Homo sapiens: one gene and its partners. The protein of the gene in region 2 interacts with the protein of the main gene of each other region in a pairwise test. Each region holds a gene or a part of one and is shown on either strand. Other genes may lie near its edges.

Region 1 (7,517 bases), on a different chromosome or scaffold from region 2:
AAAATGTCCCTCACGAGGCCAGGCACGGTGGCTCAGGCCTGTAATCCTAGCACTTTGGGAGGCTGAGATGGGAGGATCCCTTGAGGCCAGGAGTTAGAGACCAGCCTGGACAACGTAGAGCGGCACTGTCTCTAGATAAAATTATTAGTCGGGTATGGTGGTAGGCACCTCAGCTACCCCAGAGCCCAGGAATTTGAGGCTGTGGTGAACTATGATCACTCCACTGCACTCCAGCCTGGGCAGCAGAAGCAGACCCCAACTCAAAAAAATAATTAATAAAATGACCCTCATAGAAATCTCCTAAAATCCTTCCACTCCCGAGTCTTGGCATGGCCCACATAACCCTCCTCGCTCAGAGCCCTCTGCCTGCTTTTCCAGCCTCCTCTATTACATACTAAGCTACTTACAGTAGCCCAGCTGTGTCCCGGTAGCTTCATGACTTTGCAAACGCTGACTCCTCTCCCAGGTGACTGTGCCCCACTTTCTAAGTCCTACTCCTCCTTCACAACCCCCCTCAACTACCACCTTCCAGGAGCCTTCCTGACCTTCCCTCTAACCGTCCCCTTTCTGGATGTGGGTAGGAGAGCCTTGTGATTTCTCCCAGCTCAGTATATATCACACTGACAACACCTTGTCACTGACTCTGCTTTGTCTTTTCCACCAAACAATGCACTCCCAAAAGACAGAGATCTTATCTGGCACCCAGTAAGGGTTTATGCAACAAAAGAAATGAAAACTGCCACTTCAAATGCAGAAATCGTGACTTGTGTCTTCTATCCCATAAAGCATGTCTTAAAGTGGAAAGCATCTTCTAAGACTAGTTAGTTAAACAGGAGAAGCAGTGGCAAGACGCCACTGCAATTTATTTGAGACAGGTGGCAATCAACAGTCAACTCCCAGGGCACACGTTTATCCTGCAGACCTCAAATTCCACCCTCCCCAATCCCCACCTTCTCTGCACCAGATAGAGAAGGCAGCAAGGTCAAGTCCCCATGGCTCTCACCTTTTCTCTCTGGAGAGCTGGCACAAACTGTCCCTTCTGGATGAAGACACCAGCTCCTTAGGAGGAATGACTTGTTTGAGTTCCCATCTTGATACAAACCACAAACAACAAAAACCGGGCAAATCTGAAAGGCTTGCTGACTCAGCGACACAAATTCCAAGGCACCTTTGCCAACGAGGAAGAAGATGATCAGGTTTTAAATTAAGAAACAGCAGTTAGTAAAAACAAAGGTACAGATGTTGGATCCGTGTGCTGTGCCTGGGGACTGAAAATCACCAGATTTATTTTCCAATAGCCTGGGTGGAGCAGGAGGTACAACAGTCTTCCTCCACCCACTTAACAATCAAGGAGATGGTTGAAGAAACAACAAAAAGCAAACAAACAAAAAAACCCTGAGCTCTTTTTAAAATTTTTTATTATTATTAGTTTTTGGAGACGGAGTCTTGCTCTGTCACCCAAGCTGGAGTGCAGTGGCGTGATCTCGGCTCACTGCAGCCTCCGCCTCCCAGGTTCAAGCTACTCTCCTGCCTCAGCTTCCCGAGTAGCTGGGATTATAGGCTCGAGTCACCACGCCTGGCTCTGAGCCCTTTTCTTAAAAAAAAAAAAAAGTTCGTTTTTTTAGTTTGTTTGTTTTTTGTTTTTTGAGACGGGGTCTCCCTCTGTCGCCCATGCTGCAGTGCAGTGGTGTGATCACAGCTCACTGCAGCCTCCAACTCCTGGGCTCAAGCGATCCTCCTGCCTCAGCCTCCCAAGTAGCTGGGACTACAGGCACCCACCAACACGCCCATCTGATTTTTTATAGAGACAGTGATCTCAGGAATCCTCTTCGTTTCCCAGGCTTGTCTCAAATTCCTGGACTCAAATGATCCTTCCACCTCGGCCTCCCAAAGGGCTGGGATTACAGGCATGAGCCACCGTGCCTGGCCTGAGCCCTTTTACAGAAAACTCTAAAAGGACTTCATAAGCCAGTCTGGCAGCTAAGCATCCAGGAAATCAACACACCAGAGAGGGTAAATATTTAAGGTCACAGAGCAACCGAATCAGAGGGCTTGCTATCCGGATGGCTTAAGCCCGGATGGTGGCTACCAGAAAGTCTACCTTCTAGAGCGCTAGAGGAGCTAGGAAGGCATGCAGAAATATTCTGAGTTTCTCAAGGGTCCAGGCGTCTGTACACATGCTATTTATTTCCATCGCTGTTGGCGCTTAGAGAAGTGGAGCCAGCTTGGAGGAGGAGGGCAGCTGGCTGAGACAGTCGCGATGAAAGCGCAGCTCCAGAAAAGGGAACCGAGTTCTAAATCTTTTTCGGCACCCCTTACGCACCCCAAAAAGTGACCCAGGGCCCCAGGAACTCCTGGGAAGACCCCCCACAGGAAAGCAGGGAAGCAGAGTTAGGAAGCAAACTCCTCCAAAGTACAACCCCCGGCCCAGTGAGTCCCTTCACCTGGGGGTAGACCCCAGCAGGACCAACCCCTCGTCAGGGAGCCGGTGGCAATCTCGTCACCCCCTCCTCTGGGTACTTTGGGAAGGGGTGCGCGCCTTCCGAGCGACCCGGAACCGCGCCCCTCCGCCTGCGAGCCCCTCAGCCTTCATCCGAACGTCCCCTTTCGCACCCGGCACCCTGTCCCGTCCAAAGCTGCCGGCGCCTCCCAAGTCCCCCAACTCTCGCCCTCAGGACCTTGATCCCGGAGACCGATCCCCCCGACACCCCCGATCTCCCGGGACCCCCGGGTGTCCCCGCCGCCCCGGCCGTCGGTCCCCCTCACACCCACGCCCGCCCCCTTCCGGTCCCAGCTAGGCTCCGGCTCCCCGCGCCACCCCGCGCCCCTGGGACCGCAGCCCTAGCGACGCGCAGGTGGCCTTCCCGCCCTCTCACCGAGGCTGAGGAGGACAAGAGGACGGGGCTGAGGGCACCACCGCGCTCGGGCTGCAGCTCCGGCTCGGCCTGGGCAGGGCTCTGGCTGTGGCTCCGACTCTCAGGAGAAGGCAGCCAGAGTGAAACTCGGCGTCGCAGCTTCCGAGCGAGCCGCTGCGCATGCCCGGGGCGTGCGGCCTTCTGGGAAATGTAGTCCCGGTAGGGCCCAGGGGCGGGCAGAAGGCGGGGCTCAGCGGGGAAGGGCTCAACCCAAGGCGCACCTGCTCCGGTCTATGTTTTCTTCCTTCGCCTGCTCACTCATTGACTTATTCCTTCATTAATTACTGACTTAATTTTAACTAGTTTTTACTAGTACATACATGGTGCCAGTACATACATGTGCTACTGTTTCTCTTTTTTTGTTTTTAAAATTAATTTTATTTTTCTTTTTTGTACAGATGGGGGTTTTGCAATGCTGCAACGTTGCTCAGGCCGATCTCAAACTCCTGGCCTCAAGCGATCCTCTTGCTTCATTCAGCCTCCCAAAGCACTGGGGTTGCAAGTGTGAGCCATCGAGCACAACCTTTTTAAATTTAAATTTTTGTCTTTTTCTTTTCTTTTTTTCTCTCTTTCTTTCCTATTTATTTTTAATATTTATTTATTTATTTAGCTACTGTGTAGTGGGAGTGCGGGAGTGAATAGGTGAATCAGAAATGGTTTCTTGGCTGGGCGCAGTGGCTCATGCCTGTAATCCCTGCACTTTGAGAGGCAGAGGTGGGCGGATCACCTGAGGTCGGGAGTTCCAGACCAGCCTGGCCATCATGGCGAAACCCCGTCTCTACTAAAAATACCAAAAAAAACTAGCCGGGCGTGGTGGCTCGTGCCTGTAATCCCAGCTACTCGGGAGGCTGAGGCAAGAGAATCGCTTGAACCCGGGAGGCAGAGGCTGTAGTGAGCCAAGATCGCGCCATTGCACTCCAGCCTGGGCGACGGAACAGGAATCCCTCTCAAAAGAAAAAAAAAAAAAGACGAAGAAGAAGAAAAAAGAAAAAGAAAAGGTTTCTCGCCGGGAGCGGTGGCTCACGCCTGTAATCCCAGCACTTTGGGAGGCCGAGGCAGCCAGATCACAAGGTCAAGAGATTGAGACCATCCTGGCCAACATGGTGAAACCCCGTCTCTACTAAAAATACAAAAATTAACTGGGTGTGGAGGCCGGGCGCAGTGGCTCACGCCTGTAATCCCAGCACTCTGGGAGGCCGAGGCGGGCGGATCACGAGGGCAGGAGATCGAGACCACGGTGAAACCCCGTCTCTACTAAAAATACAAAAAAAAAAAAAAATTAAGCGGGCGTAGTGGTGGGCTCCTGTAGTCCCAGCTACTCGGGAGGCTGAGGCAGGAGAATGGCGTGAACCCGGGAGGCGGAGCTTGCAGTGAGCCGAGATTGTGCCACTGCACTCCAGCCTGGGTGACAGAGCGAGACTCCGTCTCAAAAAAAAAAAAAAATAATAATAATAATAATAATTAACTGGGTGTGGTGGCGCGTGCCTGTAATCCCAGCTACTTGGAAGACTGAGGCAAGAGAATCACTTGAACCCTGGAGGTGGAGGTTGCACTGAGCCAAGATTGTGCCACTGCACTCCAGCCTGGACGACACAGTGGGAATCTGTCTCAAAAAAAAAAAAAAAAAAAAGAAAGAAAAGAAAAGAAAAGAAAGAAAGAAGAAAAGAAAAGGATTTCTTTCCTGGGAAAGCTTTGTATCTAGTTGGAAAGTCCGGCACTTAAACACACAATTACGATATAGTGGGGAAAATGTTTGGATAAAGGAGGGCATAGAAGGGTATGCCTAACTTGAGGGTGGGGAGAAGACATCACAAGACAGATAAAGGCTATGTGGGTTTTTCAGTCCATAGAGAAATTTGCCAGTTGGAGCATAGGGAAGCTCTTGTAAAGCAAGAGAGATGTGAAAGTGCCTCATGCACTCCGGAGGCAGCACAAAGTTCCTGGTGGCCAGGGCAGAGGACACATGGAGGGAAGGGAGTGAGGAAGGAGAAAATGCACTAGGCTATAGCAGGATCTGAGGAGTGTGGGGAGAAGCCGGGGTAAGATTATGATGAATTTTAGATAATGTGAGTGTTTGCACATGTGTGCACATACTATGTATGTTGAATATTATGTATACAGTTTCAGGGGGATCAAGGTCCTCTGAATCTTGGAGGACCAAGTACCCAGTTAAAGATACTTACCTGGAATGACATTATCCTAAGGTCATTGATCCTTTATCAGGGATTTTTATTTTCCTTTTTTTTTTTTTTGAGACGAGTTTTGCTCTTGTTGTCCAGGCTGGAGTGAAATGGCACAATCTCGGCTCACTGCAACCTCCGCCTCCCAGGTTCAAGTGATTCTCCTGCCTCACCTCCCGAGTAGCTGGGATTACAGGCATGCACCACCACACTCAGCTAATTTTTGTATATATATATATTTTTGAGACGGAGTCTTGCTCTGTCGCCCAGGCTGGAGTGCAATGGCACAATCTCAGCTCACTGCAAACTCCGCCTCCCAGGTTCAAGCAATTCTTCCTCAGCCTGCCGAGTAACTGTGATTACAGGCGGATGCCACCATGCCCAGCTAATTTTTGTATTTTAGTAGAGACAGGGTTTCACCATGTTGGCCAGGCTGGTCTTGAACTCCTGACCTCGTGATCTGCCCACCTCGGTCTCCCAAAGTACTGGGATTACAGATGTGAGCCACCGCATCCGGGCTAATTTTTGTATTTTTAGTAGAGACAGAGTTTCACCATGTCAGCCAGGCTGATCTCAAACTCCTGACCTCAGGTAATCTGCCCACTGCAGCCTTCCAAAGTGCTGGGATTACAGGTGAGGGCCACCGCATCCGGCCAGAGTTCCATTTTTAAAATCTGAAAAGACGGACTATTTTTATTTGGGAAAAATAAAGAGTTCTGGTTGTGAAAAGAAGTAAAATAGGACAGTATCAAGAGGGAGAGTGGGGGGCATGGACTTTTGTATTTTAGACAGGAGAGAGAAGAGTGTGCTGACTTCTGAAATTGCAGCAGGATGTCTGCCCCCTGGGAACCTGGAAATGAGGGAAACAGGCTTGGCCACTTGCAAAGTGAACTTTAAACTAATATACGTAGCAAAGGGCCAGAGACAAAAGAACTGCCTGGTAGGAGGGGGCTGGTTAAATAACCCCGGAACACTAGGTAGCCCTAGAAGGAATGAGGAAGACTCACAGTGGCCTAGATCTATTGTTAAACCAAAAAGGAACTTTGAGCCAGGCAAGGCGGCTCATGCCTATAATCCCAGCACTTTGGGAGGCGGAGGCAGGTGGATCACCTGAGATCAGGAGTTCAAGACCAGTCTGGCCAACATGGTGAAACCTCGTCTCTACTAAAAATACAAAAATTAGCTGGGTGCAGCGGTGCACACCTGTAATCCACCTACTCGGGAGGCTGAGGCAGGAGAATCGCTTGAATCTGGGAGGCAGAGGGTGTAGTGAGCCAAAATTGCACCATTGCACTAGCCTGGGTGACAGACTGAGACTCGGTCTGAAAAAAAGAAAAAAAAGGAACGTTCAAAATAGAGGGTAGAGAATATGAGAATATGCACCCATTTGTGTTTTTTAAACAATTGCATACAATAAACGGGCTTACAGACGAAGAAAGTTTCTGGGAAGAGACCCAAGAAGCCCCAGAAGGTAGGCGGATAAGCTGAAGAATTGTTAAAGATTTTATTTATTTATTTTTTGAGACAGTGTCTCCCAGGCTGGAGTACAGTGGCGTGATCATAGCTCACTGCAGCCTCGACCTCCTGGGTTCAAGTGATCTTCCTGCCTCAGCCTCCTGAGTAGCTGGGACTACAAGCGTGCACCACCATGCCAGGCTGATTTTTGTATTTTCTGTCAAGATAGGGTCTCACCATATTGCCCAAGTTGGTCTCAAACTCCTGGGCTCACACATTCCTCTTGCCTCAGCCTCCTAAAGTGCTGAGATTACAGCCATGAGCCACCACGCCTGACTGAATTTTTAAAGATTTAGAGAGGGCTGTCAGCTGGGCACAGTGGCTCATGCCTCTAATCCCAGCACTTTGGGAGGCCAAGGTGGGAGGATCACATAAGGTCAGGAGTTTGGCCAACATGGGGAAACCCCGTCTCCACTAAAAATACAAAAATTAGCCAGGCGTGGTGGCATGCGCCTGTAATCCCAGCTACTGGGGAGGCTGAGGGAGGAGAATCTCTTGAACCCAGGGGGCAGAGGTTGCAGTGAGCCGAGATCGTGCCATTGCACTCCAGCCTGGGCAACAGAGTGAGACTCTGTCTTTAAAATAAAATAAAATAAAATAAAATAGGGCTCTCTCTTCTCTGGCAGTACCCCCACTCCCCACAACATACACAGTAGGGCAGTTTGCCACTTGCGTTCTTGCATAAAGGTCCACAGCCTAAGGGGCAGTGGCAGGAGCAGCGGCAGGAAATATTCCTGGCAGGGGTTCTTTGTCTGAAATTTTCCGCCTAGAGATGGTGTCTTTTTTTTTTTTTTTTTTTTTGAACTCCTCAAAGGCTGGGGTTTGTTCAACACACCCAAGGGGCCACCAGTGCTCTGAAGCAACTGAAAATGAATGACGTGGCCCAAGAAAGAATGTGACTGTTGGC
Region 2 (7,677 bases):
CAGCAATCCATCCACCCGGTCATATAGCTCGTCAGCCTTGTCCATTGCCGTCCTGGTGTAGGGTATACCATCTTAGACCCCCTGCCTTGCACCACTCCACCCTGTCCTGGCACCACAGTCCTACCAGGTTCTGAGCTAGCCAGATGAGTCCTGGCATAGAATATGGTGGGCTGGGGCAAGATCTGGGGGCCGGGCTTGCACTCACCTGTAGTCTGGGCTCAGGGTCACCTCTGGGACCTCTTGCTTCAGCCATGTCAGCTCCCGGCCCCCCTGGCATTGTAGCCATGCCAGCCATGGCGAGTCTAGCACCTGCTGCATCAGGACCTCTGTCTGCTGTAGCAGCTGACCGACCTCCTGTGATTGAGGGCAATAAGCTGTGGAGGTGGCCATGGGAGAGAAGGAGGGAGACAGGGAGCATTCATGGAGGGACTGGGAGGGGACACTCACCCCAGGCTCCATGGGCTGGGGCACAGCCTTCACACTTTCGATGGCCCCCTGGAGCAGGGCACAAGCTGCCTGGCAGTTCTGTAGTAGAGCTTCCAGCCGCTGTAAGCAGGGGCAGGCATGACCGGAGCAGCATGCAGTGTTGGTCCTGGGCTTCCTGGGTTCCAGGCCACTGCAGCCAGCTTTGTCTGGTTCAAGCCAGCCCCAGAGAGGCTCCTCCATGATCCCAAGTTGCCTATATGACTGCCCCCATGCCCCACCCAGTGTACTGACCCTTCGGAAATCCAGCCAGGCCTGGTGGCAGTAAGGCAGGCCTCCTCCTAGCGAAGTGGGCAGCCCCGCCGTTGGGATGTGGGTCAGCAGGCTCTGAGAAGGCAACTGCTCCAGCTACAGGAGAAGAAGGTGTTGTGACCCAGGCCTGGGGGGAGGCACCCCACCTCTACCCCTAGCCAACTGGGCTTAGTACCTGCAGCCCGGAAGGCACTTCCTTCAGCAGCGTGCTTCCCACTAGCAGCACCTGGTACACGGCCCCTGGGGCTGCTTCCTGCAAGGAACCTGAGCTCAGCACTATCCCCAACTCTACAGAAAAGGGCATGGTGGCTCACGCCTGTAATTGCGGCACTCTGGGAGGCGAGGCGGGAGGATCACCTGAGTTCAGGAGTTCGAGATCAGCCTGGGCAACACATGGTGAAACCCCCTCTCTACTAAAAAATACAAAAATCAGCTGGGCATGGTGGCAGGTGCCTGTAATCTCAGCTAATTGGGAGGCTGAGGCAGGAGGATCACTTGAATCGGGGAGATAGAGTTTGCAGTGAGCCAAGATTGCGCCACTGCACTCCAGCCTGGGCGACAAAGGCAAGACTCCGTCTCAAAAAAAAAAAAAAAGAAAAGAAAAGGAATGAGGGGAGCTACAATCCTGTACTCACTTGTAGTTGGCTGAGCCCAGAGAAGAGGGAAGAACTTGGAGCACAAATTCGGGCATCAACTAGCACTGTCAGTCCCAGTGCCTGTACTTCGGGCCTAAAGGGGTGAGCTTCAGTTCAGTACCTGACTCCCAGTCCTCACAGCTGGCTCAGGCTCAGTCTCCCAACCCCCTCCCTCAAACCTGGGGATGCTTCGCAGGTACAGCAGGAGGCGGATGAGTTCCTGGCTGCTGCACTCAGACTGAAGCCAGGCTGGGCTGTGGGCACACAGAAGCAGCACTGCCCGGCCTTGGACATCCCGAGTCCCTGTGGGGAGGAAGCAGTGAACTCCTGCCGTATTGGGCCACTCCACCTCCACCGCCTCTAGGCCCGCCTGGCTACCTGGCAAGGTGGCCATACCACTGGCCAGCAGCTCCCAACAGAGGTCTTGGGCCAGGAGGCAGTCAGCAGGCTTAGGGAGGCCGGATCCACTGGGGGCTTGGGAAGGGAAATGACTTGGGTCTGCCTTGGACCACCTATCCAGAGACCCCTACTTGGACCCGGGCTTCAGCCTGAGTAGGGTCAGAGACCTCCAAAGTCTTGACACTCATCTCTCCAGGCATCCCCATTCCCTTCCCAGACTTCCCTAGCCCAGCCTTCCTTACCTGCCTCCAGCAGCTTTGATATTTCTGATAAAGGGTCTCCAAGGCCCACAGGGTCGCTGTCCAATGCCCCAGGGCTCAAGCCAGATGGCATCGCCCTGCTTGGACCTGGGTCCCCTACCAACCCTACCCCTGGGGTGTCACTCTCACCCTGTGCCAAGCTGAGGTGGGAGGACATGGGGCATAGGAGACTCTCCACTCCAGAGGGGCCTGGCCCTTCTGACAGGACTGAGGAGCTTTCTACTGTGCCCCTCTGGGCATCCCCCGACTCATCTGCAGCTGGGGGTAACTGGAATTTCCTGGACAAGGGGCTGCCCTGTAGCTCCTCATCCTGGGTGGCCCCGGCTGGTGGTCTTGGAGGACCTGGGTCCTTAACGTGCATCTGGGAAGCAGGTTCCTCCTCTTCCCAGGCATCCCTGAAACTGCACACAGCAAATCTCCAGTCGGTGGCATGGCCCTGAGAGTCTGGGGACTCATCCCCATTCTCCAGGGGCCTTTCCATCACGCCCTCCTAAAGGTGGGCCTGCTCGGGGCCAGCGGGAGAGGGCTGGGTCTCAGTGTGAACCGCGCTGAAGACAGTCGAGTGGGACTCAGTGGGCAATGCAGGCGAAGGGCATGGGCCGCAGGAGGTGCCAGTCTTAGTGCCAGGGCACAGGAACTGCAATTCAGGCCTGGGAAGAGGGAATAACGTTAAGGGTGTCCCTCTGTCCAGGTCCCCCGTCGGACGCCCGTGGGCCTCTGCTCCGTGCGCGCCCACCCTCAGCGTCCTCACGGCCACGCTCTGCAGGCCCATGCCCGTGGGGGCGGCCCCGCCATGGCACCACGATGCCTCGGGTTCGCTCTCCTGCCGGCCCCCCCAGGCCCTGGCCTTGTTGCAGGGCCTACCGCGCGCCCCCCCGTCGCCCGCTGGCGACACTCACGCCCCCGGGCCGAGCCGCGGGGAACCGTGAAGTCGGACAGCCTTCGAACAGACGGCGGCCTCGACGGCCACTACAGCGCGGCCGCGCGGCGTCACGGGACACCGCCTCCTGGCCGCTGGGAAGGGAGGGCAGTGCCGCCGGGGCGCCGCGCAGCGCCGCGCCGCCCCCTGGAGGCCGGAGGACGGAGCCACAGCCCGAGCAGGTCTCGACGGGGCACAGCCCTGCCGGCGCGGAAGACAAGGTGCGGGCCCTGCAGCAACCCCCGCCCGCCGCCGTCCTCTCCGTGGGCCCGGACAGCCCGCCAGCCCCGCCCCGCCGCACCCCCGGGCCCCGCAGACCGCGCGCCTCACCCGCGGCGTCGCAGTGCGTGGGTTGGGGCAGCGACCAACGGTCGGCAGCTCCACCGTGCCCACTCCCCGGGCCTGGCGAGGACGCCGGAAGCGCTCTCCCGCCAGGAAGGCCGCGTGGGTGAGCGAGGGTGAGTGCGCGGGGGGCACCGCGGGACGGGGCGGGGCGGGGTCTCCCAGGGGCTTCCGCGGCTGAATGAGCCGACGGGAGGGGAAGGCCTTCTGTGTAGGGAAGCGGGGTGCTGCCTCGCCGCGGGCACCCAGAGACAGGTCGCATGATCCCACGTGGGATGGGGCTGCCATCCGGGTGGGAGTGAGACCAATGGGTGGAGCTGACCCAGGCCTGCCAGAGTCCACCAGATCCTCTACCCCTTTGCCATCCCTGGCACCCCCTTACCCCCTTCTCCACAAAGTCCGGTGCAGGAGGCTGGTGCTGAGGTGGGGTTCTGGAGCCAGAGCCCCCAGCCCAGGCCTGGCTTCTCCACTTACCTGCTGGGGGCGCTCCAGGAACTCTGCTCTTTGAGCCTCACCCTCCTCACCTGTAAAAATGGAAAGTCATTTTTCTCCTGGGGTTGCCGTGAGGACTGGGGAAGACTCCCTGTGTTATACGTTCACCCGCTGCCAGCACTCGGGCTGTGTTGGTGCCCTGCCCCCTCATTTCACCCGCAGTCAGGGAATCCTGAACTGATGAAAGCTACCCAAGTGGGTAGCTGTGCGATTTGAGGTCCCTTTAGGGCATGTGGGCCTGGCCCGACACTCCCCAGAATTTGTGGGAAGATTGTGGGAAGGTCAGCTCTGCGACCAGGAGAAGACCCTGAGCCCCACAGTGTGCCCAGGCCCATGGTCCCTGGGGAGAGGGGGCACCGGGTGCAACGGCTTCCCTGGCTCTAAGGCAGGCACCTCTTTCATGAACCTGGGGATTACAACAGGCACAGTGGGACCAACAGCAATCTCCCCACCCAGCCCAGCCCAGCCCCCAGAGTCCAGACTTTCAGGCAGCTACCGAGGAGCCTTCTTCATGAGCAGGTCTGGCTGCCAGAGGGGAGCCTTGGAGTTGTCCTGCTCCATCCCTAACTCCCAGCCAGACCTCTCTTCCCACCCTCCTGGCTTCAGGAAGCATCATCCAACCTTGGCTTCCTCCCCAGTTCTGTCCCAGGGCCACCCCCACTGAGTCACTGCCTTCTGCTCCCTCCCTCCCCTTCTGCTGCCCACCAGCACCCACCAGCCAAGTCCCCCAGGAGCCCTAAGAGCCGGGGGGGACCTGCTGGCGGGCACACATACCCCTGTGAATGCCAGAGGCAAAGAAGAGCCTCAAGCCACAGGCTATAGCTGACCTGGCACCCTGGGCACAGCAGGCAGATTCAGGGGAGGTACAGCCATACTGAGATAGAGGCAGGGCTGGGCCCTGGTTTCTCCACTCCACAGAGAATGTGCATTGTAGGCTTCATGGAAACAGAGACTGTATGTTATCCACTTCCGTACTTTCAGCATCCAGCACAGGGCCTGGCACAGAATAAATGCTTTGGGGCGCCTGACACTGATCACACTACCCCTGCCCTCCTGAGGCTCCACATCTATGTATCCCATGGAAACCAGAGTCACAAATGGAGACAGATTCAGAGACTCAGCCTGAAAGGAGACAGAAGAGGCCGAGAGCTACAGGTTGCATGGCCCAGGATGGCAAAGGTACAGATAGAAATGAGGACACACTGAGGCCTAGTGGGGAATATTGGGGAGCTGGGCCTGGAGCCAGCCAGGGGTGGCTGACCACAGCAGGCTTTGTGGGCTGAGCTTGCAGGACTGAGCAGTGACTCATGGGGCCCATCTCTGTGGCTCTCCTGGCAGCAGAATCAACTCACAGCAGCCTTTTCCACTGAGATCATAAAATGGGAATGGGCCTCCCTCCCCTGGCCCTTCCCCAACTCTCCCTCAGCCTCCCATTTCTTGCCAACATGACTCAATCAAAAATAAAATGGGCCGGGCACTGTGGCTTATGCCACAAAATCCCAGCACTTTGGGTGGCCAAGTCAGGCAGATCACCTGAGGTCGGGAGTTCCAGACTAGCTTGGCCAACATGGCAAAACCCCATCTCTACTAAAAATACAAAAACTAGCCAGATGTGGTGGCACATGCCTGTAATCCCAGCTACTTGAGAGGCTGAGGCAAGAGAATCACATGAACCTGGAAAGCAGGGGTTCCAGTGAGGCAAGATCACACCACTGCACTCCAGCCTGGGTGACAAAGCGAGACTCTGTCTCAAAAATAAATAAATAAATAAAAAGGAGGGGAGGGCTCTGGGCCTCACTGGGTCTAGTGACAACAGACCCACAGTCATTCACCTTGCACACCCCTCTTCAGTACTACCCCAAATACTGAGGGCAACAAATACCCCAGAACTTCCAGACCTCTCTTGCCTTTGGCCTAAATAAACTCCAAACTCCTTGGTATGACAGTCAAGGCCACTTAGAGGCATCACAGCCTTCCCATCTACCTCCCAGACTGGCCTGGAAAACAAATCTGATTACTAGTCTAGTCTCACACTGGCTCCTCTTCCTGAAGGCCCATGCCCATCTCCCCTAATCAAAATCCTTCCTCATTTGAGGCCTGGGTGCAGCATCTCCTTCACGAAGACTACCCCAGCCAAGTTCTCTCAGCTCAGGCCACCCTGCCCAGTCACATGGCAAGGACCCATGGATGAGCGCTTGACGCACTTGCTCTCCTGCATCCAAGTCACCTGCCTGCCTCCCTGTCAAACCCACCATGTTCATCTGCCCCCACCACTGCAACCTCCATCTCCTGGGCTCAAGTGATTCTCCTGCCTCAGCCTCCAGAGTAGCTGGGATTACAGGCATGCACCACCATGCCCAGCTAGTTTTTGTATTTTCAGTAGAGATGGAGTTTCAGCATGTTGGCCAGGCTGATCTCAAACTCCTGACCTCAAGGGATCCACCCGCCTTGGCCTACCAAAGTGCTGGGATTACAACCATGAGCCACCGCACCCGGCCCGACAAATAATGACATTTATGATCCCTTACCTTGAGCCAGGCCCTGGGTAGATTCTTCCCATTAAATTTTGTCATTTAATCCTGACAGCAGCCTTATGAAGTGAGTATGATTATCTCATTTGAGAGATGAGGACACTGAGGCTCAGAGAGAGCATGTAACACACCCAGAATGACACTTGTGAGTGACAGCTGGGGCTGTTGACTCTAAACTGTTGACTACGGCCGGGCGCAGTGGCTCATGCCTGTAATCCCAGCACTTTGGGAGGCCGAGGCGGGTGGATCACCTGAGGTCAGAAGTTCGAGACCAGCCTGGCCAACATAGCAAAACCCTGTCTCTACTAAAAATACAAAAAATTAGCCGGGCATGGTGGTGGGCACCTGTAATTCCAACTACTTGGGAGGCTGAAGCAGGAGAATTGCTTGAACCTGGGAGGCAGAGGTTATGAGCCAAGATCATACCATTGCACTCCAGCCTGAGTGACCTGACTGAGACTGTCTCAAAAAGAGTAAAAAATAAAAATTAAAAAAATAAACTGTTGACGACTAGTTAACTACGAGGCCTTATCACTGTGGCCTGTAAACAACCTAAGGGCAAAGCCCAAGTCACTCTTCCTTCTCATCACACCTTCCCTGCGCATAATGCAGAAAAAGTAAAGGTAAGTTGGCTAAAAGTATAACCTTCCAAGTGTGTCAAAAGTCCTTCAGATCCAGACAGCCAGAAAGTAGGTTAGTTATTACCTAGGGCTGAGGAGGGCCAGGGATGAGGACTGACTGCTAATGAGTACAGGGTTTTTTGGGGGATGATGAAAATGTTCTAAACTTAGATTGTGGTAAGGGCTGCACAACCCTATGGGTATATTCAAAACACTGAACTGTACACTTAAAATGGGTGAATTTTTATGGTATGTGACTTATATCTCAAATATATCTCAGCTACTCAGGAAGGCTGAGGTGGGAGAATCAGGAGAATAGCTTGAACCCAGAAGGCAGCGGTTGCAGTGAGCCGAGATTGCACCATTGCACTCCAGCCTGGGCAACAAGAGCGAAACTCCATCTCAAAAAAAAGAAAAAAAAAAAAAAAGAAATCCCTAGATAAGAGCAGTCCCAAATCCAATTCCCCTGGTGTCTAAAGGACTTAAAACAAAAACAAAAACTTTGGCCCAGCACAGTGGCTCACGCCTGTAATCCCAGCACTGTGGGAGGCCGAGGCAGGTGGATCACCTAAGGTCAAGAGTTCAAGACCAGCCTGGCCAACATGGTGAAACCCCATCTCTACTAAAAATAACAAAAATTAGCCAGGCATGGTGGCGCTCACCTGTAATCCCACCTACTCGGGAGGCTGAGGCAGGAGAATGGCTGGAACCCGGGAGGCAGAGGTTGCAGTGAGCCGAGATCGC
Region 3 (7,004 bases), on a different chromosome or scaffold from region 2:
CAAACAATTAAAGGAAAATATAGACTTAATGAATGTAAAATAAAGAATCTCAACAGAAAAACAGAAACTATAAAAACCCAATGGAAATTCTAGAGCTGAAAGCACAATTAAACAATTCACTAGAAAGGTTCCACAGCATATTAGAAATCACAGCGACCTTGAAGAGTTCAACAGAAATCACCCAACCTGAAGAACAGAGAGAAGACTGAAGAAAAATGAACCTTAATGACCCATGAGACAGTATCAAGCTCTCCAATGTATGTGTTATTAGAATCCGAAAAGAGAAAAAGCAGGAAAAAATAATGAAGAAATTATAACCAAAAGTTAAACAGAATAAAACAATATAGGTACTGCTTTAAGGTTAAAAACTTATTTATATAAAAACCCACTGTATACTCAAGCAATTTAACAAGAAAATCTACATTTAATTTTCAATTTCTCTAAGATGAGGAGATAAGACAAATCAAATATAATTCGAATACTGCAACTAATCAAATTATAAAATAGTTCAGATTTTTAAAAACTTTCTAAATTTTACTTTCAAAAATTTACTTGAACCCAACAGTGCTTATTCTTTAAGGGGGAGGGTGCTACTCTTGGGGAGAGGACATAAGAAAGCTTTCTGAAGTGCTGGAAATCATCTACATCTTAATCTAGTTAGTCTTTTACATAAGTGTACACATATGTAAAAATTTGTTAAGCAGAACCCTTAAGATTTGTGCACTTCACCATATCCAAGTTATTCTTCAATTAAAGAAAGAAGGAAAGGGAAGAACGGAAAGATGAAGGAAACGAAGGGTGTAAAGGAGTTGGAAACCAACTTACCTGAAACCTGATCATCTGTTAAGCCAAACGCTGACATAACATTTTTATTGATTTCATCTTGGTTTTTTAAAGGATCAAAAGCAGACATACTTGCTGCCATAACCTGAGTAGACTGTTTTCCAGAAGAATCAGAAGCAGACTTTTCTTCCCTACCATCCACAGTATCTGTAAAAATAGAGGAATAAACAAAAACTTGTTTCCTTTTTATCTATATTCAGTAAGGCCTAAAAGTACAAGGGAAATAATGCAGGTGTATAATGATAGTCTGGAATGTTAAGCATGTCGGAATATAGGATTACAGATCATTTTAATTCCTTTATTTTTTTTATATTTTTCCTTCTAGTAACAGGGAGAAGAGGGCAAAAAGAAACAGAAGATGAACAAAAGCTTTCCAAAAAAATTATTTACCTCCTTTTGTAAGAAACATTAGATGAAAAAAATACAAGCTCCTTGATAAAGAGAAACATTTTACTTTTTTTGGTTTTTTTGGAGCCCAATAACCTATATCCTAGTATCAGATACCCACTGGGCACTCTGGAAATAATAATTATAGGAACTAAGGCTTTATTTTATAAAAAGAAACTGAACTAAGGTTATAATCTCAAATTTTACATTTTATTTCTACTGTCTACTGGTCCACTATTAAATTACATGGAAATCAAGCCAACCATAATTAATTCATAATCTTCCATAAATAGCACATTAAAAACATTTTTGAATTTGCTACCTTCTATTTTAATATGTATTACTTATTAAAATACTTATTAAAATGCTTACAGATGAAATGATGTATATGGGATCTGCATCAAAATAATACAGGAGGGGAGCCGGGTGCAACAGCTCATGCCTGTAATTCCAGCACTTTGAGAGGCCGAGGTGGGTAGATCACTTGAGGTCAGGAGCTCGAGACCAGCCTGGCAAAACCCAATCTCTACCAAAAATACAAAAATTAGCTAGGCACAGTGATGCATGCCTGTAATCCCAGCTACTCAGGAGGCTGAGTCACGAGAATCACTTGAACCCAGGAGGCAAAGTTTGTAGTGAGCTGAGATTGTACTCCACTCTGGGTAACAGGAGGGGCGGAAATGTGTATAGTGTAATTATATGATACTATAAGTTGGTAACTGTTGAAACTGGATGTGGGTTTCTGGGATTCATTATAATGTCTACTTTCTTATATACTTAAACTTTTCTATAATAAAATGTTTAAAACAACAACAGAAAAACAAAATGTCAAATATTATGAGCAGGTTAAATTTAAAATCATGCTTTTCTTCTCAGGATACTAAGATATTCCACAGGCATTTATACTACTGTCTTGTGAAAGAAAAAGAGTTCAAGAATTTTAACATACATTTTACAAATAGGAATCCAAGTCCAAGATACAAAAGACATCAAAAGAAACAAACAAAAAACACGAACAAGTAAACAAAAAGACTGTTGCTAACCATTTACTCAATTAAGGGACAATGATTATCACTTTTGTTACCAAGCAAGTAAATGAACATCAGTTCTTAGATCACCCCTGTAATCAATACAAAATGTATCTTCTGAAAAAAATGTTAAGTGCTAAACCGAATATAAGTACCCACAGCACACACTGGCTGGCAGCTCATTCATTCCTAACATACCATTCCAGGCTACCCTAATATTTTCTAAATGTTTGGAAAAAGAAAACTACTACTAGAAGTATTCCTTTAAAACATGTCTACCAGTTATCTATCTTCCCTACCAACTTCCTTCCTCTAATCCCAAGAGCATACCACGTCAGTCTTACAAGTTGTTTCCCCTCACATCTCACTACCTATGCCTCTTTTCACTTATCACAAACTAAAACCATCAGGAAACATACTATACGTCCTACTACTTGCTCCATTAGCTGCTGGAGATACTGCAACAGGTCAATCTTCTATCTAAGGTAGTTTACACATCATTTGCCTCTTAAAGGAAAACAAGCATCCAAGAACCGCTGTAATAGAGAGCTGAAGACCACAGGTGGCCACATTTCTTGGTGAGGGTAAGCCACAGGTTCTAAATAGCACTGATAGCTGATTGGCAATTTCATTTTGTGGACTAGATTTCAGTTTCTGATGTATGGTTTTCTTGTTGTTTTTGTTTTCTAAAAAAATAAGAACTATCTCTAAAAATATAATGCAGATTGTATTATTCTTATATCATCTTATCATCAGATATGTCAGACAGGACACAATAACTAGAAAATGGCCATACAAGAAAACAACATATGGCATGATTTCCAAAATGCAGAGAAGAAACCAATTTTAACACCTTTTACATTAACATAGGTAAAAAGCTAACAGTATGTATAAAAAATATAGACACAAAGAATAAAGTATAAACAGTAGCAAGAAAGAGGTGAGGAAAAAGTTTCACCTAAAGCAAAAAACTCATAAATCCATTCCTTAGAGTAGAATGTGGGCCACTGTAGCTAATTTCTGAACAGTATTGGCTATACTGGTTAAATTCTCATCTACACTTCTTAATATTCTGCAGATGGTTAAATCCCCTGAAATTATATGCAAATGTTGTGTCAGCATCTATGAATTCTTCTGGAAAAATTGTCTAACTTTTTCATTGATTCTTGATCTAAAATTGGAAATTTTTGTTTGGAGAGGTAGGGCTCAGAATAGGCAACCTTCTTTGACCTGAAATATAAAAGGTTTCATCATAAAGTGACCAAGAGGATCTCATTATAGTATTCAGCAAATCTCCATTATGTTCTGAAATAGAAGTGCAACTAGGAATAATCAATCACCAAATATTTATTAAACATCTATCATTAACATAATTCCATATGACTATTAGAAGACAGGAAGAGAGAAATGATGGAAAATACATCTTTATTTAAACTGTAACTAAAATAAAAATAGAAAACAAAAACTTCCAAAATATTTAGTGGCCAAAAATAGAATACATACCATTTATCCACAAAAATTATCTCATGTTAAGCCCTTTATATGCAGTCATCCAGTCTAGACTTTTTTTAAATTACTATTTCACAATATGGACAGTTTTAAACTATGAAAATTATAAGCAAACAAAGAATTTGTAAAAAGAAAAAAATAATAATAAGAGTTTTCTTTAAATGCAACATCTAAGAATCTTAAAAGAAGAAAGCAGTTTTTTAACTGTACTTTCAAGTCATTAACACATACTTAAAGTTCAGTCCACATTTTAAAATACATTCGGTCCCAAAATTATGTCAGTTCCAAATGTTGACACATTTTGCTTTATCTTAACACAAACAGTACATGTCATTATACAATGGGGAAAAAATTAGTTTTTCTTTAATTATTATTAAAAACTGTGTTTCAAATTTACAACATACCATTTTTAATGAACATTACTAATCTAAGTGATTTTTAGTTGAAAATACTTCCAACACTATGTAATTATTCATGAAATGATTTTCAATTCCCAAGGTTCATTACTTATCTATTATACTAAAAAGGGTTCATGTGTCAAAAGGATTTGAAAACTGACCTGTGTAACAAATCCAAAAGTCTAAGACTAGTTGCGAAAGAATCACCCAAAAAACACTTTAAAAATGGGATTTCCAGGTGCTACGCTCCAGTAGGTCTATGATGAGATCCAGAAATTGGTATAATGAAACCTCCTAGTAATTCTGATGAACAGCAAAGTTTAGGAACACAGACATAAATACTAGTAGAGAGGCAGAGGAAGAAACAAGAGTGACATTGGGGATGCCATCCTTCTCCTACTTAAAAAGAGTTTTTTAAAACCTCCAAAAAGACGTAAGAACAATAAGTCAGAATACAATGGATTCAGGGTTTACCATTTTCAGGAATATTGGTGGAAGGTCCTGGTTCTCCAGGTGGTTCCAAGCTATCCAATAAACGATTCACTTTATTTCGAAGTTCTATCAGTTCTCGACGGAGATATTTCACCTGACTTGATTCAAGGGGTCTTGGCTGGCCATTAACTGAAATAAAAACATTTATTTGCTTAAAATTAGAAGTTCATGAATAAGTATACTAATAATATGCAACAAGGAAAAATAAATACAATTCCTTTAAAAAAACAAAAACAAGATATCAATGTAATGGAGTAACTTTTTTTTTAAAAAAAAAGAATTCTCTATGGCTAATAACTTATTTTGGAAAAAAAGCAGAATTATCAGTCTTTCTTGATGCCATACCTATAGCCTATGACCTTACTGGTAAAAAGGTTTGGTAGGAAAATCCGAGCTCTACTTTTTAATAGAAATGATTAAATTTAATAAAAATCATAACTTCAAAAGCTCACTTTATTTCATGCTGTTCTTAAATATTTATTAAATTTAATAGAAATTATTAAATTTAATAAAAATTATATAACTTAAAAAGCTCATTTTATTTCACGCTATTCTTAAAATAATACAAAAATACCTTACTCTATACATGTTTAAAGATATAACATGACTGATAGGTCTGTTATCCCTCTTGCATAACTTTGTCTTGAAAAAAAACAGCTAACTAAAATAGCTGATCTTAAAAGAAATCGTTAAAAAAATATATGCAGGGCCAGGCATGGTGGCTCACACCTGTAATCCCACCACTTTGGGAAGCCAAGGAGGGAGAACTGCTTGAGCCCAGGAGTTCAAGAAAAACCTGAGCAATACAGTGAGACTTCATCTCTACAAAAACCTTAAAAAATTAGCCAAGTGTGGCAGCACATGCCTGCAGTCCCAGCTACTCAGGAGGCTGGGGTGGGAGGATTGCTTGATCCCGGGAGGGGAAGTCCAGTTGGCTGAGATCACTCCACTGCACTCCAGCCTGGATGACAGAGGGAGACCTTGTCTCAAAAAATTTTAAAAAATAAATATAAATTTAAAAATATATGCAGAACTTATCTACATCATGACTGTCCTTCAAAGCAGTTACTTCCAGAAACAGTATATAAGCCACAAAATGCCAGAGATTACTCGGTAATCTCTAGTTGTGATTTTTTAATGAAAGCAACATTACTTCACTTATTATTCATTTTGTCCAAATGATTTTCAGTTGACTGAAAAAAATGAAATCCTTCATTCAGCAACAAACACTGTCACCACTCAGGTTATTTTTAAAAAGAAAGTGACACAAGGCTCTGATTGCAAACCCCAAGACAGGCGTTCAAAAATTAAACTAAAATGCTTTGCACATTGCCAGTATACATACATACAAACTCCTGAAGCACCTAATTAGAAAAGGACATCTACGTGAAAATAAAAGTTCAGGGCGATTCTTTGTTAAACATGTTTCAAAATCAAACCACCAATTATAAGCTTTTAGAAGAAAACTCACAGTAATTCACATACTCCCTGCATAGCTATGAAGTTCAATACAATCTCCTACCTACATCAATTATTGGTTTTCACTTGGTATTACTGTTTTTTCTCCAATATTTGATGAGAAAAACAGCTCCTAGCAGCCAGAAACTGGTCTGGTACAGTAAGACAGGCCTTAGTGTTGCTGGAAGCTGGCCTGGCACTCACAGGTAGGCTGTGGTGTTCTCCCGTTGAATATAAATATTTCAAAGAACACCAACATCACACAAGACTATAATCTGTGATAGATCAACAGTCCATAACCATGTCAAAACTCCAGACAAAAACAAGAACACTGACCACACCAGAAAAATGACCAAACAACCTTTTATCCTGGCTAATATGAGTAACTGCTACTACTTTACCAACTGCAGCTTTAGCCTCAATTCATTCCTCTCACCTTCCAGATAAGATTTAGTAAGATTCATTCCTCTCACCTTCTAGATAAGATTTGATAAGATACCCAAACATAGAATCATCTCTACTTCCTGAGAGCATCCAATGCAGAGCAAAGCTCTACTTCCTTGAACCTTATCCAAAATCAGGTAACACAAACCCAAGCCCAAAAAAAAATACTTTTCTAACATACTTGTAAGACATCCTATTGTTCTCCGTGGTATTCATTCTCCCTTGCTGCAGTAAGTCAGTAAACCCAACTTCATTCAACTACAGGTGTGTTCCTGGTGGTCTTTGGAGCACACTGATACATCTTACCAGAACTTTTAAGAACCTTGCATTTACATTCCTAGTATGGCCTATAATCTGTTATTATCTACTCAGTGGGTTTAAGAGCACTAAGCTCCAAATTATACTCAATTAAAAGTTTAAATTAGCTAAGTTTAAATTAATTAAG

The links. The genes of interacting proteins can lie anywhere in the genome.
Region 1: the proteins of PLEKHG4 (region 2) and DTX2 interact in binary tests that used the Homo sapiens proteins (3 or more experiments, as listed by UniProt).
Region 3: the proteins of PLEKHG4 (region 2) and TFG interact in binary tests that used the Homo sapiens proteins (3 or more experiments, as listed by UniProt).

What each region holds. Positions count from the first base shown.
Region 1 is NC_000007.14:76,457,196-76,464,712, reverse strand, and holds the start of DTX2 (probable E3 ubiquitin-protein ligase DTX2), read right to left. Parts: upstream 3,005-7,517; 5' UTR 2,877-3,004; intron 2,774-2,876; exon of another isoform or gene 2,102-2,773; intron 1,269-2,101; exon of another isoform or gene 1,169-1,268; 5' UTR 1,004-1,168; intron 1-1,003. UniProt on the Homo sapiens protein: Regulator of Notch signaling, a signaling pathway involved in cell-cell communications that regulates a broad spectrum of cell-fate determinations.
Region 2 is NC_000016.10:67,274,878-67,282,554, reverse strand, and holds the start of PLEKHG4 (puratrophin-1), read right to left. Parts: upstream 3,024-7,677; 5' UTR 2,929-3,023; exon of another isoform or gene 2,680-2,928; 5' UTR 2,511-2,679; coding exon 2,012-2,510; exon of another isoform or gene 1,845-2,011; coding exon 1,749-1,844; intron 1,674-1,748; coding exon 1,550-1,673; intron 1,465-1,549; coding exon 1,371-1,464; intron 989-1,370; coding exon 911-988; intron 832-910; coding exon 718-831; intron 547-717; coding exon 448-546; intron 355-447; coding exon 206-354; intron 53-205; coding exon 1-52. UniProt on the Homo sapiens protein: Possible role in intracellular signaling and cytoskeleton dynamics at the Golgi.
Region 3 is NC_000003.12:100,726,494-100,733,497, reverse strand, and holds part of TFG (protein TFG), read right to left. Parts: intron 4,787-7,004; coding exon 4,640-4,786; intron 991-4,639; coding exon 826-990; intron 1-825. UniProt on the Homo sapiens protein: Plays a role in the normal dynamic function of the endoplasmic reticulum (ER) and its associated microtubules. Required for secretory cargo traffic from the endoplasmic reticulum to the Golgi apparatus.